Regions from separate parts of the Homo sapiens genome. Here region 1 is linked to region 2. The links come from fine-mapping of genetic effects on gene expression. Tissue or cell type: whole blood. Region 2 holds a variant in brackets; the other region holds the start of a gene. All regions are shown on one strand. Distances are between the middles of the regions.

Region 1 (8,107 bases), 140 kb after region 2:
GACATCCTCCTGTCCCAGCCTCCCAAAGCGCTGGGATTACAGGCATGAACTACTGTTCCAGACCCTCCAGAACTTTTCTAGTTTAGGATACTGTATTCCTGTCCCATGCAACTACAGCTGTCATAAATAGCATTTAGGACTTCATCATATGCAAAGCCATAATACATGACAGAAAGCTATAATACAAACAGCAGAAACAAGAATTGCTAAGTTTGCTTAGTTGCGCCTATGGGTCATGAGAATCTGTCTCATTTCTGTCTAACGAGTAATCTGCAACAAAATGGAAAACAGAAAAATGTTCTCAGAGTCATCTGCTTGTTTCAAATTCAAGTCTCCATGATTTGGCTGCTCATCAACTTCCAGTAGTAAGGTGTTCTAAGAACCTTTAGTTAAAGTTTTAAAGTCTCACGCTGGAGTACTCCTCAAGCAAAATAATAAAAAAAAATTTAAAAAAAAGTTTTAAACTCATATGTCACTTTTTCATTGTAATGTAAATAAGTTCTTTTAGTCAGATTAACATTCTACATTTTTAATCTTAGGCTTCAAATATTTCAAAGTACCAGAACAAATCTATGAAGCTCTCATAGCTACAACTCACCAATAAAAAACCAGAGGTGATCACTCCACAGAAGTCCCCAAACAAAAAACTTGAATATAACTTCCCAGAAATGTGAATTTGTAGCATCCTATATCATCAGCTCTATAAACCCCGAAGCATATGCCATTCTTACCTTATCCTTTTCATGTGGAAGAAGGGACACTGGAGGTAAACAGGAAAGAGACTCACAACTCTCTTTCCCATCCACGTTGGTTGCTTTAGTGTTGAGCCGATAAAGAGGTCCATCTTTAAGGAGTCTGCCGTGGCCAATGGCACGTTTGATAGCCAATCGTAACTGCTGGTGAAAGCCAGAGGCAGCACTGCCTCCGAATAATGCAGACACATCCTTCTGACCTTTCAAAAAACGTTCAATGCTTTTCAAAGTTGAGCCACCAGACTCTGCCAAGCCCTCAACTGCCCGCTTTATCAGTTTATTCCAATCCACATTTTGTTTATTATCCAATTTTCCATGGTTCCGAGGCTTAGGAAGTGCTATTCGCCCAGGATTATCAGGATCTTTATAGGAATTGAGTCCTTTATTTGAGACTTTTAAAATTGTTCCATCTTTAACACTCAACTCCAATTGTTCTAAAACAGTTTTACGATCCAAGCCATGGGATGAAGACACAGCATTGCATATCCTTTCTTCTGAAGGACGCTGTTTCTGCTTTTTCACTTTTTTGATGGCCTCCAAAATCCACTCAGTATAAAGCGGGTTTGCGAGTTTTACCATGGTGAAGGATTCTGTATATCCATAGAGTCGTTATCCCTTATCCTGATGCTGAGTAAGTTTTACACCATGGAAAACAAGATTCTCGGAGGCTGGGAACCAGTTAACCATAGCATATGAGTTTTCTGGCCTAAGTCCTTCCTCCTTTCACAAAACAGAATGCCACCCCAATTGTACTATAGAAACCAAAACAACCTGTTGATTGAAATGTCTTCCAACTTCCCAATGAATTTCTCAATAGCACCACACATGGGTCTCGTCATAAAGTTGTAAGAACTCAAGAATATTTCATTCCCGGCTCCAGAGCAGAAAAATGTGCATCTTATGCCTGAAAAGCAATGAAAATAAGGTCAGTTTTCTACCAAGACCTATTTCGAATGAAAATAAGCATCCTCATCATAAAGCAATCAAACAGCAAGTGTTTACTAGGCACCCTTAAGAATTTCCAAACTTATCTATTAATATTCCAAAACAATCATGTATGTAAACCATTGGGATAAAAAAGAAAAAAAAAGAAAAGAAAAAAAAAAGATGAGTAATTAGGATACAATGAGGAAACACGATGACATGTTCTAAGAATGACCTTTAAGCTACCACTAACCAGAGTGGGTGATGGCTATTCTGTACTCCGCAATCTCTGCTCACCAGTCTAGGAATTTCAACTCTTCCTTGACATCTTTCCCCAAGAAACTAGTCAGCACTTCAACAAGTATCTGGATTAGTAGAAAGAATCCTGCAATGAAAGTAAAAGTGAATCTTTCATCTTTCAAAATTCTAGACATTCAGAGTAGACAAAAACAGTCAATAAGGCAGAAAACGACTGAGAAAATTTTAGTTCTTACATGAAAAGAATGAATACAATATGCACACCCAGTTTATAATTTAAGTACAGTATTACCTTAATCTCTCCTAATGGAAACAAAAATACTATTGAAAATAGCCTAGAGTAAAAGTGCTTACTGAATTTAACAATAATCCACTTTCATTCAAATTTTAAGAATTACATGCTGATAGCTTCTCCTAACCCAAACTAAGATGTTTCTATTCATATGCTGAAGAGAGTCACAACTGTCAAACTGCGTGTAAGTAATTCAGACAGGAAAACTAGAAATGAGGAAGGCCCAGAATCACTGGGGTCAACGCACATACTACATATCAAACGGACGGTACAGAAAAAGAAATACACTGGCTACTTGTAGGACTAAAGAGAAGCCCAAATAATAAAGATATAAATTCAAGATTGCTGTCCTGAAACGAACATTAATAAAACATAAACAGAAATGTACTGTCTCTCTGAATCAAAGTCAGTATCCCTATAAAAGAATCTGGTAGATGCAATCTTGTTTAATCACTAAAGTACTGAATTCTGAATCTAACTCTTTTGCCTCCAAAAATAAGTTTAACTGAAGTGTTTTTTAGAACTTCTGCTCTCATTCTGGAGATCATTTGCATTACAATATAAACAATGCTAGACAAATGGCTCCCACAGCAACTATTCTTGGTAGTGACATTAAAATCAAACGGAAAACTAATACACACTAGGAAAGAGATATTACTATTAACTCTGATAGGAAAGAAAAGAGTGAAGCAAACATTCAAACCTGAGCCAAGATTTGTTTTTAAATCAGCTGCCTAAAAAGAAGCCCCCTGGGAGAATCATGCTTCAATTTGGTGAGGGTCTCAAGAGGATAGAAATCAGAGTATCATTACTCCAAGTAAGCTCATTATACAGATATTAAGTCTAAACTAAATGAGAAGCTACATCCTGAGTTTAACAAGCTGGGAACGAACGTCCTAATTGACTAAGCTTCGCAGGTAAAAGAATGAGTGACAGTCACTCATTGTCTTTCCAGTCGGGATTGTCATCAGTCTCCAGGTCTTCGGAAAGTCAAGCGCCTGCAGCCTCGGATCTTAACTCCCGGAAAGTACACGAGCGGCTAGAGCGAGCGCAACTCGCTTCCGACAGTCCTTCCCGTCCCCATTCCCCACCCCTAAACACGTCTTCGCGCTCTCTTTTCAAAGAGCGAGAAACTTTAAAAACTTGGATCTGCACAGCCCGGCAGCTCGCCGACGGGGCGCTGCACCGTTTCCACGCGATGGAAACAGACCCCGAGCACAAGTTAACAATGAAATCACGTGAAGGAGTTCAGAGCGGTGCATAGCCCCGGCCCAGCTCCGCACCCTAAGCTCTGGGGGCCGGCTCGAGGGCGGCGCGGGTTGCTGGGAGCCTGACAGTCGCGCACCGGGCCAAGCCGCGAGGTTGACAGGCGCCCGGCCTCCCCTCGGCGGCTGGGCTGACAGCCCGGCAGACACAACACCACACGTGCTGCGCCTCGCACCACAACACCCGCCGGCCTGTCAGCCCCGCTCGCCGCCTCAGCCCCGCTCGGATCCCCGCGCCCCCGGCCGGAGCCAAAGCCGGAGCCGGAACCCGAGCCCGAGCCCGAACCCGAGCGCCCGCGAGCGCGGGGAGAAGCGGCCCGGCCCGGCACAGCCGGCACGCGCGCGGCGGGCGGGTGGGCGCGCCCCGAGGGAGAGCGGGCTCGCCGGCTCCGCCAGCCCGAGGCTCCGCGGCCTGGGCCGCTCGCCGCCCGCCCACCCGCCGGCTCCCCCAGGGCGGGCCCGGCCGGCGGGATCGGGGGCGCGGGGCCCGCGAGCGCGGGGCCGGGCGGCGGCGCGCGGGCCGCGGGCCGGGGCAGCCGGGCGCCGAACAAGCGAGCAAGCGAGCGAGCGAGCGGGCGGGCGCGAGGGGGCGGCCACGGCGCCCCAGCCCGAGGCCTGGCGCAGAGCAGCGGGAGGCGGCGCAGGCCGCGGCGGGGCCTGCAGCGGCCCGCCGACCCCGCGAGGCAGCGGAGTGGGCCCTGGAGCGGCTCGGCCTCGGGCTGGGCGGCCGGGGGCGGCCGGGAACGGCCCCTCGGCTACTTACCGGGAGGAAGGACAGCCGAGATCCCGGGGCCCCGGGCCGGACCGCGGAGATGCCCCAAACTGACACGGCCGCCATCTTGGAGACAGTGAGCTCCAGCCGGGGGGAGGGGAGGCAAGGCGGCGGAACAGCCGCGGGGGGAGGGGAGCGTCGCGAGGGAACGGCGGCCTGGGGGAGGGAGCTGGAAGAGCCTGGGCGGGCGGCGAGGGGAGGCGGAGGCCCGGCAGCGCGGGTGGGGGGCGGCCGAGAGCGGGAAGAGCTGGGCCGAGAGCCGGGAAAGGCCGGAGGGCGGGGCGGGGCAGCAGGGAAGAGCCGGCCGGCGGGGTCACGTGGGGCCGGTACAAAAGGCCAAAGCCAGGGGAGGAGGAGGACTTGGTGGGGCTGGAGGCTGGGGAGCGGGGGTTCCTCCTCTCCCGTCTCACGCGTTTAAGTCAGACGGCGACCCGGGAGAGGAGGAGCTGGTGCACCCCATGCCACCGCTGGGGAAACTGAGGGCAGGAGTCTGGGTGGGGTGGCTTCAGTGTGGCACGGAAATCCGGCAGCCACGCAGGATGGGAACTCTCGGCGGCGTCTGTTTACAGTTAGTGAGCCCTCCCTCCCCACTCATTTGCCTGCACAGCGACTTTCCGGAGCCCGAGGGCGGGGCCTGGGGGGCGGAGAGGAGGCGGCTTCCCGTCCTCACCCCTGGCAGCTCGCCTCAGCCCCCGACGGCTCTCCTGTGTCGGTGGGAAGAGTTGGGGAGAGGGTGGAACCAGAAGCACCCGTCTTAACCCCTTTCAGCAGTGACTTCATTTCTTCCCTCCCCCAGCAGCTGAGAGGGTTCTTGGAGCTCACTAGAGCCATTTTATGGGAGACTCCACAGACCTGGGTCGTGTGACTTGGACAAGGTCACACAGCTAGTATGTGGCGCGCACCTGAGCCTGGGACTGAGATTTGTCTTATTCCAAAGCCGGTCTTCCCTTCTTGCCCTGTGCGGAACTCTTGTCCATACTTAGGGCGTTGGAACCACGAGCAGGCGGTTCTTCATGGCCTGCCTGTCCACTACTGGCTGTATGGACGTTTCTTTGTCTTGCCTTTCATCTACTTTAAACTCTTTGATGCAGAGACTGAGTCATACTTTTTTTTTTTTTTTTGAGACAGTGTCGCTCTGTTGCCCAGGCTGGAGTGCAAGTGGTGCGATCTTGGCTCACTGCAACCTCCGTCTCCTGGGTTCAAGCGATTCTCCTACCTCATCCTCCTGAGTAGCTGGGACTGCAGGCGCCCGCCACCACGCCTGGCTTATTTTTGTATTTTTAGTAGAGACGGGGTGTCACTATGTTGGCCAGGCCGCTGGTCTCGAACTCCTGACTTCAAGTGATCCGCCCTCTTCGGCCTCCCAAAGTGCTGGGATTACAGGCCTGAGACACTGCACCTGGCCAAGTCATGCATTTTTTTTTTTTCTGCATTCACTAGAAAGACAGTAGACATGAAAAAGACACTAAATGTTTAATCGTTGACATGGACGTGTATCCTGCTGCCTGACCTTTATCTGCCCTGTCCCCAACCCCATACGACACACCCCGCCTAGACTGTCGCCCGCAATACCTCATTTTATCTCAGCTTTAGCTTTTAAGGGCCTCCCTCTCACCCACTGCCTTAACTTCCATGCTGACTTCCTTTTCTGAACTTCTGTAGTAGTATCATTTGCTCTAGTCATTTTGCACTTACATGTGATATATATATATATATATATATATTCCGAATACATTCACTGGTAAATGCTCTCCTATAATGACTCTGCATCTCCAGCACCTAGAATAATGTTGTACAAGTACTGTAGTAGGCGGTTTAAAATAAAAAAATGTTGCTCGTGAATGAACAATTTTTTAAGCCGTTAAGAAAGCCGTTTGTGGCGGGGCGCTGCTGTAGCCCAGCTACTCGGGAGGCCTGCTTGAGCCCGGGAGTTCCAGGCTGCAGTGAACTATGATCGCCACTACACTCCAGCCTGAGAGACACAGCAAGAGGGAACCCAAACTTTTCTATCTATCCCGTCTCCACTCTAATCCATAGCCCTACCCTCCATACGGTAGACTCTGGACCATTCAGTAAGAATAACGTAACTTTTCAGATCATGGTCCAGCCTAATCAATATCCTGACACTGACAGAAACAGAAGTGTAATGTAGTGAGGTTGACTGAGTTGCCATTCATCGCCTACTTCCAAGCCCCATCTCCAAAGCAGTAGAGAAATTTGGAATACATGATAATCCAATAGAAAGGATCTCTTTCATCCTAGATGAATCAGATAGACACATTCTCAGGTAAAATGGTCCCTGTTTGTAATGAAATCACCTCCAGGAAAAAAAAAAAAAAAAAAAAAAAAAAAAATATATATATATATATATATATGTATTTTCTTTTAGTAGAATAGGCAGATTTTTATTTCCCAAAGAGGGCAGATAAAGTCATATTAATGCAAAGACAATGAGTTCTTCATGTGAGACTAGAGTGTGTGGCCTTCAGAAGAAAAATAATACAGAGATGAGTTGTGTTTACTTTTGGATAATTTGGAAGAAAACTAGCCACAGCCATCCTGTGAAAAGACCAAACTGGGGATTAAACAGTAGCAAGAATTTAAAACAATTTATAACAACAAAGCACAGTTGAGCTTTTCACACAGCTTCCATAAAGAGTCTCTGCTTTACATTTGCATAACTAAATGGCACATTCAGGAGGTCTTCTCAAAATAAAAATCTTGCAACAAAGACGGATTAAAGTCCTCATCATTTGCAAGTTAAAAAGCAATCTGCACTCTGAAAGGATAGTTTTTCTTAGCTCAAACTTTACTCACGATTCAGCCCTGTGGAGCTGGCAACTAAAGGTTATTTCCCCCTTGCATATTTTGCTCTAGGAATCCCTGCCTTTTCACTTGTACTTGGTACTTGTGTCTTATACAGAGTCCATGCCAGCCTGAAATTGGAAGTTTGCTCTGTCCTGGTTTCAACAGGAAACATTTTTAGTCCATTTACATTTAATATAATTACTGGTATATGTGGATGTATGCCTACCATCTTACCATTTATTTTGGATCACCTATTTCACATTCCTTGTTCTCTGCTTTTTGCCTTCTTTTGAATTAATTAAAATATTTTAACTATATCATTAACCCCCTCTATTAATTTTTAAATTATACATTACTAGTTTTAGAGATTACAACATTGCTTTTTGACTTATGATCTTATACAAAATAATTACTTTTACCACTTCCCCGGGAATGCTAAGACATTAAAATACTGTATCTCCACCTACCCATCTCCCTTTTGTGTTTATTGTCGTCAAGGATTTTAATTGTGTGTGTATTTTAAGCCACACAAGAATTTATACTTATTGTTCTGTACAATAAGTACTCATTTAGATTAACCTCCATATTTATCCTTATATTGCTCTTCATTCCAATATGCATTTCTGTGCTTCTGTCTGAAGGTTTTCCTTCTATTTGAATAATTCCCCTGTTTTACAGCAGGTCTGCTGATGACAAGTTCTCTCCAAGGTTGTTTGAGTTTTTGCTTTTTGTTTTTTGTGGGGTTTTATTGCCTAAAACTTTGCATTATCCTTCATATTTTTGCTGGGTATAGCATTCTGATTTGGCAAGTTTTTTTTGTTTTTTGGTTTTTTTTTCCCAGCACTTTGAAGATGTTCTTCCATTGTCTTCTGGTTTCTGTCACTCCCTTTTATTCCTTTGAAAGTAATGTCTTTTTTCCTTTGACTCCTTTTAGGATTTTTTCTTGTCTTTGGTTGTCAACAGCTTTACTATGACGTGTGTAGATGTGGTTTTCTTTGTATTTATCCTACTTGGGTTCATGAGTGCAATGGGTGTA
Region 2 (8,107 bases):
TCTCCTACCTCAGCCTGCCAGGTAGCTGGGATTACAGGTGCCTGCCACCATGCCCAGCTAATTTTTGTACTTTTAGTAGAGACGGGGTTTCACCATGTTAGCCAGGTTGGTCTTGAACGCCTGACTTCAGGCGATCCACCCACCTTGGCCTCCCAAAGTGCTGGGATTACAGGCATGAGCCACCGCACCCAGCCCAACAACAGAATGTTAAGGCTCTTCTTTGGCTGCTCTGTGTGCTCTGACATCTCTCTCCTGGAGAGTCTTGGTTACCTCCTGGCAGAACCACCGAGGAGGACTCCTGCCAGTGAGAGCCTAGTTTCCTTTCCACTGCTCCTTATTTATCCTTCCTGCAGGCGCTGTGAGCTCTCAAGCTCCCCTGATCCCTCACTTGACCCTGCTCTCAGGGGGCCCAACCCACCTTCCTGCTAGCCACGAACCCTTTAGACCCCCAGCCCCACGATGAGGGCTGTCTCTTAGAAATGATTATGAATAAACTGGTTCCTGGCACTCCTTTGTTGGCTCTCCTTCTTCACTTAAAAAAAATATATATAGCAACCTATATATAACACAAATATTTACCGTTTTCACTATTTTTAGATGCACAGTTCAGGGGCATTAACTACATTCACATTGTTGTGCAACTATCAAAACCATCCACCTCCAGAACCTTCTCCTCTTGCCAAACTGCAGCTCTGTTCCTGTTAATGGTAACTCCCAGCCTGGCGCGGTGGCTCATGCCTGTAATCCCAGCACTTTGGGAGGCCGAGGTGGGAGGATCATGAGGTCAGGAGTTTGAGACCAGCCTGGCCAACATAGTGAAACCCCGTCTCTACTAAAAATACAAAAATTAGCCCAGCGTGGTGGCATGTACCTGTAGTCCCAGCTACTCAGAAGGCTGAGACAGGAGAATCGCTTGAACCCGGGAGGTGGAGGTTGTGGTGAGCCGAGATCGCGCCACTGCACTCCAAACAAAAAAAAAAAATAGTAACTCCCCATTCCGCCCTCCCTGCAGCCCCTGGTAACCACTCTCCAGGGGTGCCTAAGTTGGTGCAAAAGTAATTGAGGTTTAGGACCATGAATTTTAAATCATTATAACTAGGCTCAAACACATTATTAATCAAAATAGGAACCATTACAATCAACACATTTTTGCCAATGAGAAATAAGTTTGTTTACTCCTGTAGCGTAAAAATCCATGCTTTGGGATTCGACAAACTCTTGGAAAGCATTTTCTGCCTCCTGCTGGTTGTGGAAGCATTTTCCCTGCAAAAAGTTGTTGAGATGCTTGAAGTAGTGGTAGTTGGTTGGCGAGAGGTCAGGTGAATGTGGTAGATGAGGCAAAACTTCGCAGCCCAATTCGTTTACTTCGGAAGCATTGGTTGTGTGATGTGCAGTCGGTTGGGCATTGTCAGAGAAGAATCGAGCCCTTTCTGTGGACCACTGCTGGCTGCAGGCGTTGCAATTTTCGGTGCATCTCATAGATTTGCCAAGCATACTTCTCAGGTGTAATGGTTTTGCCGGGATTCAGAAAGCTGCAGTGGATCAGACCAGCAGCTGACCGCCAAACAGTGGCCAGGACCCTTTTTTGGTGCAAGTTTGGCTTTGGGAAGTGCTTTGGAGCTTCTTCTTTGTCCAACCACTTAGCTGGTCATCACCAGTTGTATAAAATCCACTTTTCATGGCATGTCACAATTCAATCTCGAAATGGTTCCTTGTTGTTGAGTAGAATATGAGAAGACGACACTTCAAAATGACAAATTTGTTTTTTTTTTAATTTTGCTCAGCTCATGAGGCACCCACTTACCGAGCTTTTTTACCTTTCCAATTTGCTTCAAATGCCAAAGGACCATAGAATCGTCGATGTTGAGTTCTTTGGCAACCTCTCCTGTGGTTGTAAGAGGATCAGCTTAGATGATGGCTCTCAGTTGGTCGTTGTCATCTTTCGATGGCCGGCCACTACACTCCTCATCTTCAGGGCTCTCGTCTCCTTTGTAAAACTTCCTGAACCACCATTGCACTGTACGTTTGTTAGCAGTTCCTGGGACAAATGCATTGTTGATGTTGAGAGTTGTCTCTGCTGCTTTATGACCCATTTTGAACTTGAATAAGAAAATCACTCAAATTTGCTTTTTGTCTAACATCATTTCCATAGTCTAAAATAAATATAGAATAAACAGCAGTAATGTCATTAGCAAAAAAAAGTAAGAAACGCACATTAAAATGATGTGTAACATAACCACATTGATTTAAGAATGTATTCCAATGTCAAATGGCAAATTTCAACAATGTAAAAACCACAATTACTTTTGCGCCAAACTTTCTGTCTCTTGAATTTGCCTATTCCAGGTACCTCTTATAAGTGGAATCGTGCAACATTTGTCTTTTTGTGACTGGCTTCTTTCACTTAGCATAATGTCTCCAAGGTGCATCTCTGTTGCAGCATGTGTCAGAATACCCTTCCTTTTTAAGGCTGAATAATATTCCATTGTGTGGATTGACCATATTCTGTGGTCTGTTCCTCTGTCTGTGGATACTTGTGTTGATTTCGCCTTTGGCCATTGTGAAGTAGCCTGCTAGGAACATGGGTGGACAAATGTCTGTGTGAGCCCCTGCTTTCATTCCTTTTGGATATATGCCCAGAAGTGGAATTGTTGGATCATATGGTAATTCTGTTTAATTTTTTGAGAAACTGCCCCACTGCTTTCCACAGCAGTCATTCAATTTTGCATTCCTACCAACAGAGCACAAGGGCTCCAGTTACACTACATCCTCGCCAATACTTACTGTTTTCTGTTTTTTGATAATAGTAAGCCTAATGGGTATGAGGTCATACCTCAATGTGCTTTTGGTTCATATTTCCCTAAAGATTAGCGATATTGAGCATTTTTTTCATGTCTTTATTGGTTTTTTGTATATCCTATTTGGGGAAATATCTATTCAAGTCCTTCATCCAATTTCTCTCTCTCTTCCCTTTTTTTTTTTTTTTTTTTTTTTGAGATAGGGTCTAGCTCTGTCACCCAGGCTGGAGTGCAGTGGCATGACTGAGGCTCACTGCAACCTCTGCCTCCCAGGTTCAAGCAATCCTCCCCCCTCAGCCCCCCAAGTAGCGGGGACTATAGGCACACGCCACCACCGCTGGATAATTTTTGTATTTTTTGTAGAGACAGGGTTTCACCATGTTGCCCGGACTGGTCTCAAACTCCTGGGCTCGAGTGATCCACCCACCTCAGCCTCCCAAAGTGCTGGGATTATAGGCATGAACCACCACGCCTGGCCACACCCGATTTCTAATTGAGTTGTTTGGTTTTTTGTCATTGAGTTGTAAGATTCTTTGTATATTCTAGATATTAATCATTTCTCCAAAATGAAACTTGCAAATGTTTTCTTCCATTGTGTGAGTCTCCTTCTCTCTCTGTTGATAGTGTCCTTTGATGCACAAAACGTTTTTAATCTTGATGAAGTTCAATTTGTCTATTTTCTCTTTTGTTGTGTGAGCTTTTGGTGTCATGTCTGGGAAATCACTGCCAAATTCAGTGTCATGAAACTTTTCCCCAATAAGGGCTTTGTAGAGTTCGCTTTCACATTTTGTTTTGTGATCCATTTTGAGTTTCGCGTGTGCGTGTGTGTGTGTGTGTGTGTGGTGTGAAACAAGATGTGGCTTCATTCTGCATGTGGATATCCAGTTTTCTCAGCATTATTTGTTGAAAAGACTGTCCTTTCCCTGCTGAATGACCTTGGCATCCTTGTTGAGAATCAGTTGCCCGTCTTCACATGAGGGTTTATTTCTGATCTCTTTCTTCTGTTCCATCAGTCTATATGTCTGTCTTTATGCTGGGACCACACTCTCTTGTTAGTGTAGGCTTGTAGGAGATTTTCCTTCCCTTCCATCTTGTCCCCTTTCCCTGACTTGGAGATATCCAGGTCTCTCCTGCTGTCCATGCCCCTCAGCCTCCACCCTCCCCCCATAATCCTATTTATCACCCAGAGCCCCAAGGTAAGACCTTTCTCCCTTATCTGCACCCATTAAAATGCATCTACTTTGCCTATTTCCCTCAAGTTCACATGACTGATCCAGTGCCGAGTTTATGCTAAGGTGTTGGTGGTAGCCCATGGCTTCATGCACTCACCCTTTTATGTGCCTCTCCCGGGTCACTCAGCCCAAACAGGCCTAGTCTGCTGGCCACCGCCAGGCTTTCTTCCAGGTATCGGTCTCAGACTCCTGCCCCACCTCACTCCACTCCACCCTCACCACTGCTTCAAAGGCCGTCTCAGATCTTGACCCCATCTTCCCCCCAAACCTGCAATTCCCCTTCAGTTGCCATCTCTGCCACACCCACCCACCCGAATGCAAACTCTTTAATTTGGTATTGCGCTGGTATTATACTCAAAATATAACCAGAGCCCTGACCTTCCTTTCACCTCCGTCATGGCTTCCCCGTCCCAGCCACCATCAAGTCTCACCCAGGTCACCGCAGTAGCCTCTTTGCTGCTCCCGCGTTTCCACCCTGGCCCTCCACACCACAGCACGAGTGACCCTCTTCAGATGTAGGACAGACGATAACACTCCTCCACTCAAAATCCCCCAACACATCCCCTCCCCCTGCCAAGGCGTTTCCAATGACTTA[G/C]TGACTGCCACTGTGAAACTGCATAGGAGCCACCTGACACTCAGCAGCTGGCACAGGTGTTTAGTGGGCCATCCAGGGGCCTGCAGACAGATGGTGTGACCACCAGGCAGGGCTCAGGAGGTGCCTCATCTACATGGGATCTGTCCCTTTGTAACTGGCCCTTTCATTCCTTGTGCCCTCAAGGTGCATCCACGGTGCAGGGTGTGCAGCATCCCCCTCCTCTTAAAGGGTGAGTCATATCCCGTGGTGTGAATAGACCACATCTGTTCATCCATTCATCTGTTCATGAACACTTGGGTTGTTTCCATCTTTGGGGTATTATGAATAATGCTATTGGGGTGTATGAATATCACTTGTTTTTTAAAAAATTAAATTTGATTAGGTATAATTTATATGCAGTAAAATGTATCCATTTTCATGTGCAGTTTGCTAGGTGTCAACTAGATACAGAATGTTTCCATTGCCCCGGAAATTTCCTGTGCCCTTTGCAGTTAATCTCTCCCCCAATCCCCAGCAACCCCTTCTGCTCTCCGTCACCGTAGGTCAGTTTTGCGTTGTTTTTTGTTTTTTGTTTTTTTTTAGACAGAGTCTCACTTTGTCCCCCAGGCTGGAGTGCAGTGGCAATGATCTTAGCTCACTGCAACCTCCACCTCCCGTGTTCAAGTGATTCTTGTGCCTCAGCCTCCCAAGTTGCTGGGAGTACAGGCACGCCCAGCAGTTTTGCCTTTTCTAAAGCTTTATATAAGTGGAATGATATAGAAAGCACTCTTTCAAATCTGGCTTCTTTTGTTCAGCAAAGGGTTTTGGGATTCACTCATATTGTTGTGTATGTCCTTTATTGGACAGTTACTGTTCCATTGTATGGCTATACCATGTGTGTCCACTCAACAGCTAATGGACATCTGGGTTCTTTCCAGTGTTGGTCATTTGTGACTCAAGCTGCTACAGACATTTGTGCAGAAGTCTTTGGGGGAACATATGCTTCTGTTTCTCTTGGGTAAATACCCAGGAGTGGACCTGCTGGGATGGATGTGGGAAGTGTATGTTTAACTTTTTAAGAAATGGCCAGAGCACTGCTTTTCAATGTGGTTTACTCTCTTACACTGCCATCAGCGATACATGAGAGTACACATTTCTCCATGTCCTGATCAACACTTAATATGGCCACTTTTTAGTCTTTTCCATTCTAATTGTGGGAAACAGTATCTCACTGCAGTTGTAATTTGTATTTCCTTACTAATGATACTAAACATCTTTTCACGTATTAGTGGTCATCCGTATATCTTCTTTGGTAAAGTGTCTGTTCAAATCTCCTAACCATTTTTAAAAATTAGATTGTTTATACTATCAAGTTGAAAGAGTTCCTTACGTATCTGGACACCAGTCCTTTGTCAGATATACATATTGTAAATATGTATATCTCCCACCCTGTGGCCAAACTTTTCATTTTTTAGTGGTGTCTTTCAAAGAGCAGTTTTTTTTTTAATGGAATTCAATTTATCATTTTTTTTCTTTAATGGATTGTGTTTTTCGGTGTCCTAGGTATTCTTTTTTTGGCTTCTTTTGCACATTATACTTCAGATTCATTCATTGCATGTAACTGTAGTTCTTTAAATTTCATTGGCGTGTAGAATTCGGCATGTACATACTGCAAATAACCATTCTATTGTGACGGTATGTGGACTGTTTTGGGCCGCTGCAAATTATGTATGCTGTTATGAACATTCTTGTACATGTACCCTGAGACACATGGACTTGTATTTCTCTAAGTTTGTAACTTACTGTGGAATTGCTGAGGGACGGAACATGCATAACTTCAACTGTACCAGATAACGCCAAGAAGCTTTCAAAAGTAGTTAAACTAATTTATACTCCCATAGTAGTTTATAAGTTGCTTCATGTTCTTATTAATACTTTATATTTCTTTTCTTTTCCTTTTTCTTTTTTTTTTTTTTTTTTTGAGATGGAGTTTCTCTCTGTTGCTTAGGCTGGAATGCAGTAGTGCCATCTCAGCTCACTGCAACGTCCACCTCCCGGGTTCAGGTGATTCTCCCACCTCAGCCTCCCAAGTAGCTGGGATTACAGGCGTGCGCCACCACGCCTGGCTAATTTTTGTATTTTTAATAGAGATGAGGTTTCACCATGTTGGTCAGGCTTGTCTCAAACTCCTGACCTCAAGTGATCCACCTGCCTCCACCTCCCAAAGTTCTGGGATTGTAGGTGTGAGCCGCCACGCCCAGCCAATACTTTATATTTTCAATCCTTTCAATGTTAATCTAGTGGGTGCATAGTGGCCATTCATCTTTGGCTCTTTTTTTCTTTTTTTTGACTATATACATTTTTCATTAAGGCCATAAATTTCCCTCTAAATACTTCTTTAGCCTTTCAATATCTTCAAAAGTAGAGAGAATAGTATCATGAAACCCCATGTACTCACTAGCCAATTTCAACATTTATCAGCTCATTGTTAATATTATTTCCTTTAGACCAATGCTGGATTATTTTGAAGCAAATTCCAGACACAATATCCTTGCATCAATACTTATTTCAGCTTTTTTTTGTTTGTCTGTTTTGAGATGGAGTCTCGCTGTGTCACCCAGGCTGGAGTGCAGTGGTGTGATCTCGGCTGACTGCAACCTCCACCTCCCAGGTTCAAGCAATTCTGCTGCCTCAGCCTCCCAAGTAGCTGGGGCTACAGGCATGTGCCACCACACCCGCTAATTTTTTGTATTTTTAGTAGAGACAGGGTTTCACTGTGTTAGCCAGAATGGTCTCAATCTCCTGACCTCGTGGCCCACCCGCCTCGGCCTCCCAAAGTGCTGGGATTACAGGCATGAGCCAGCGCGCCCAGCCTTATTTCAGGATTTAACTGTAAATAAAATGACCTTTCAAAAAATAAAGACAATATCACTATTTCACACCTTAAAGTTGAAAATCCTCAACATCATCAAATCTTCAGTGTTCAAACTGCTACCTCATAAAAGTTGTAATTTCTCAGAATCAGGATGCATTTCATTCACATATTTCTTAAATCTCTTAATCTTCACCCTCCATGCCCTCCTCTCCTATTATTCCTTGTAATTGATCTGTCATTTATCCTGTGAAGTTTCTCATGGTCTAGATGTGGTTGCTTCCATCCCTGTGGTGGTGTTTACCATGTGCCTCTGTCCCTTGTGTTTTCTGTAAACTGATAAATTGAAGCACATTTAGAACCAGCATGGTTTTCTGACAAGGGTATTTTCATAGGTGGTATGAAAAGGCACACAATATCCCAGGTGTTTCTTTTTGAGATGCTAGTGGCATTTGATAATCTTTGCCTAGATCCATTATTTCATACGGGTTGCAAATAATTCAGCTCAAAATATTTTCTAATTTCTTTTTTTTTTTTTTTTTTTTGAGATGGAGTCTTGCTCTGTCGCCAGGCTGGAGTGCAGTGGCGCGATCTCGGCTCACTGCAACCTCCGCCTCCCAGGTTCAAGCAC

Evidence for each region. PIP is the estimated chance that this variant, and not a neighbour inherited with it, causes the effect.
Region 1: it holds the start of KAT6A, and the variant in region 2 is fine-mapped to the expression of KAT6A in whole blood (INTERVAL, PIP 0.98).

Annotation. Positions count from the first base shown.
Region 1 is chr8:42,047,647-42,055,753 of GRCh38, forward strand. KAT6A (lysine acetyltransferase 6A) reads right to left here and starts at 4,341. Exons shown (of 17, transcript NM_006766.5): 1 at 4,255-4,341; 2 at 732-1,656. The coding sequence starts at 1,331. KAT6A-AS1 (KAT6A antisense RNA 1) reads left to right here and starts at 4,104. Exons shown (of 2, transcript NR_136589.1): 1 at 4,104-4,339. RefSeq lists silencers at 3,435-3,904, 4,005-4,634, 4,825-4,984, 6,945-7,239 and enhancers at 4,433-4,954, 4,955-5,475.
Region 2 is chr8:41,911,455-41,919,561 of GRCh38, forward strand. No RefSeq gene overlaps it. Among named protein-coding and RNA genes, the nearest start is that of ANK1, 120 kb to the left of the region's middle. The variant G/C (reference allele first, on the strand shown) is at 4,626.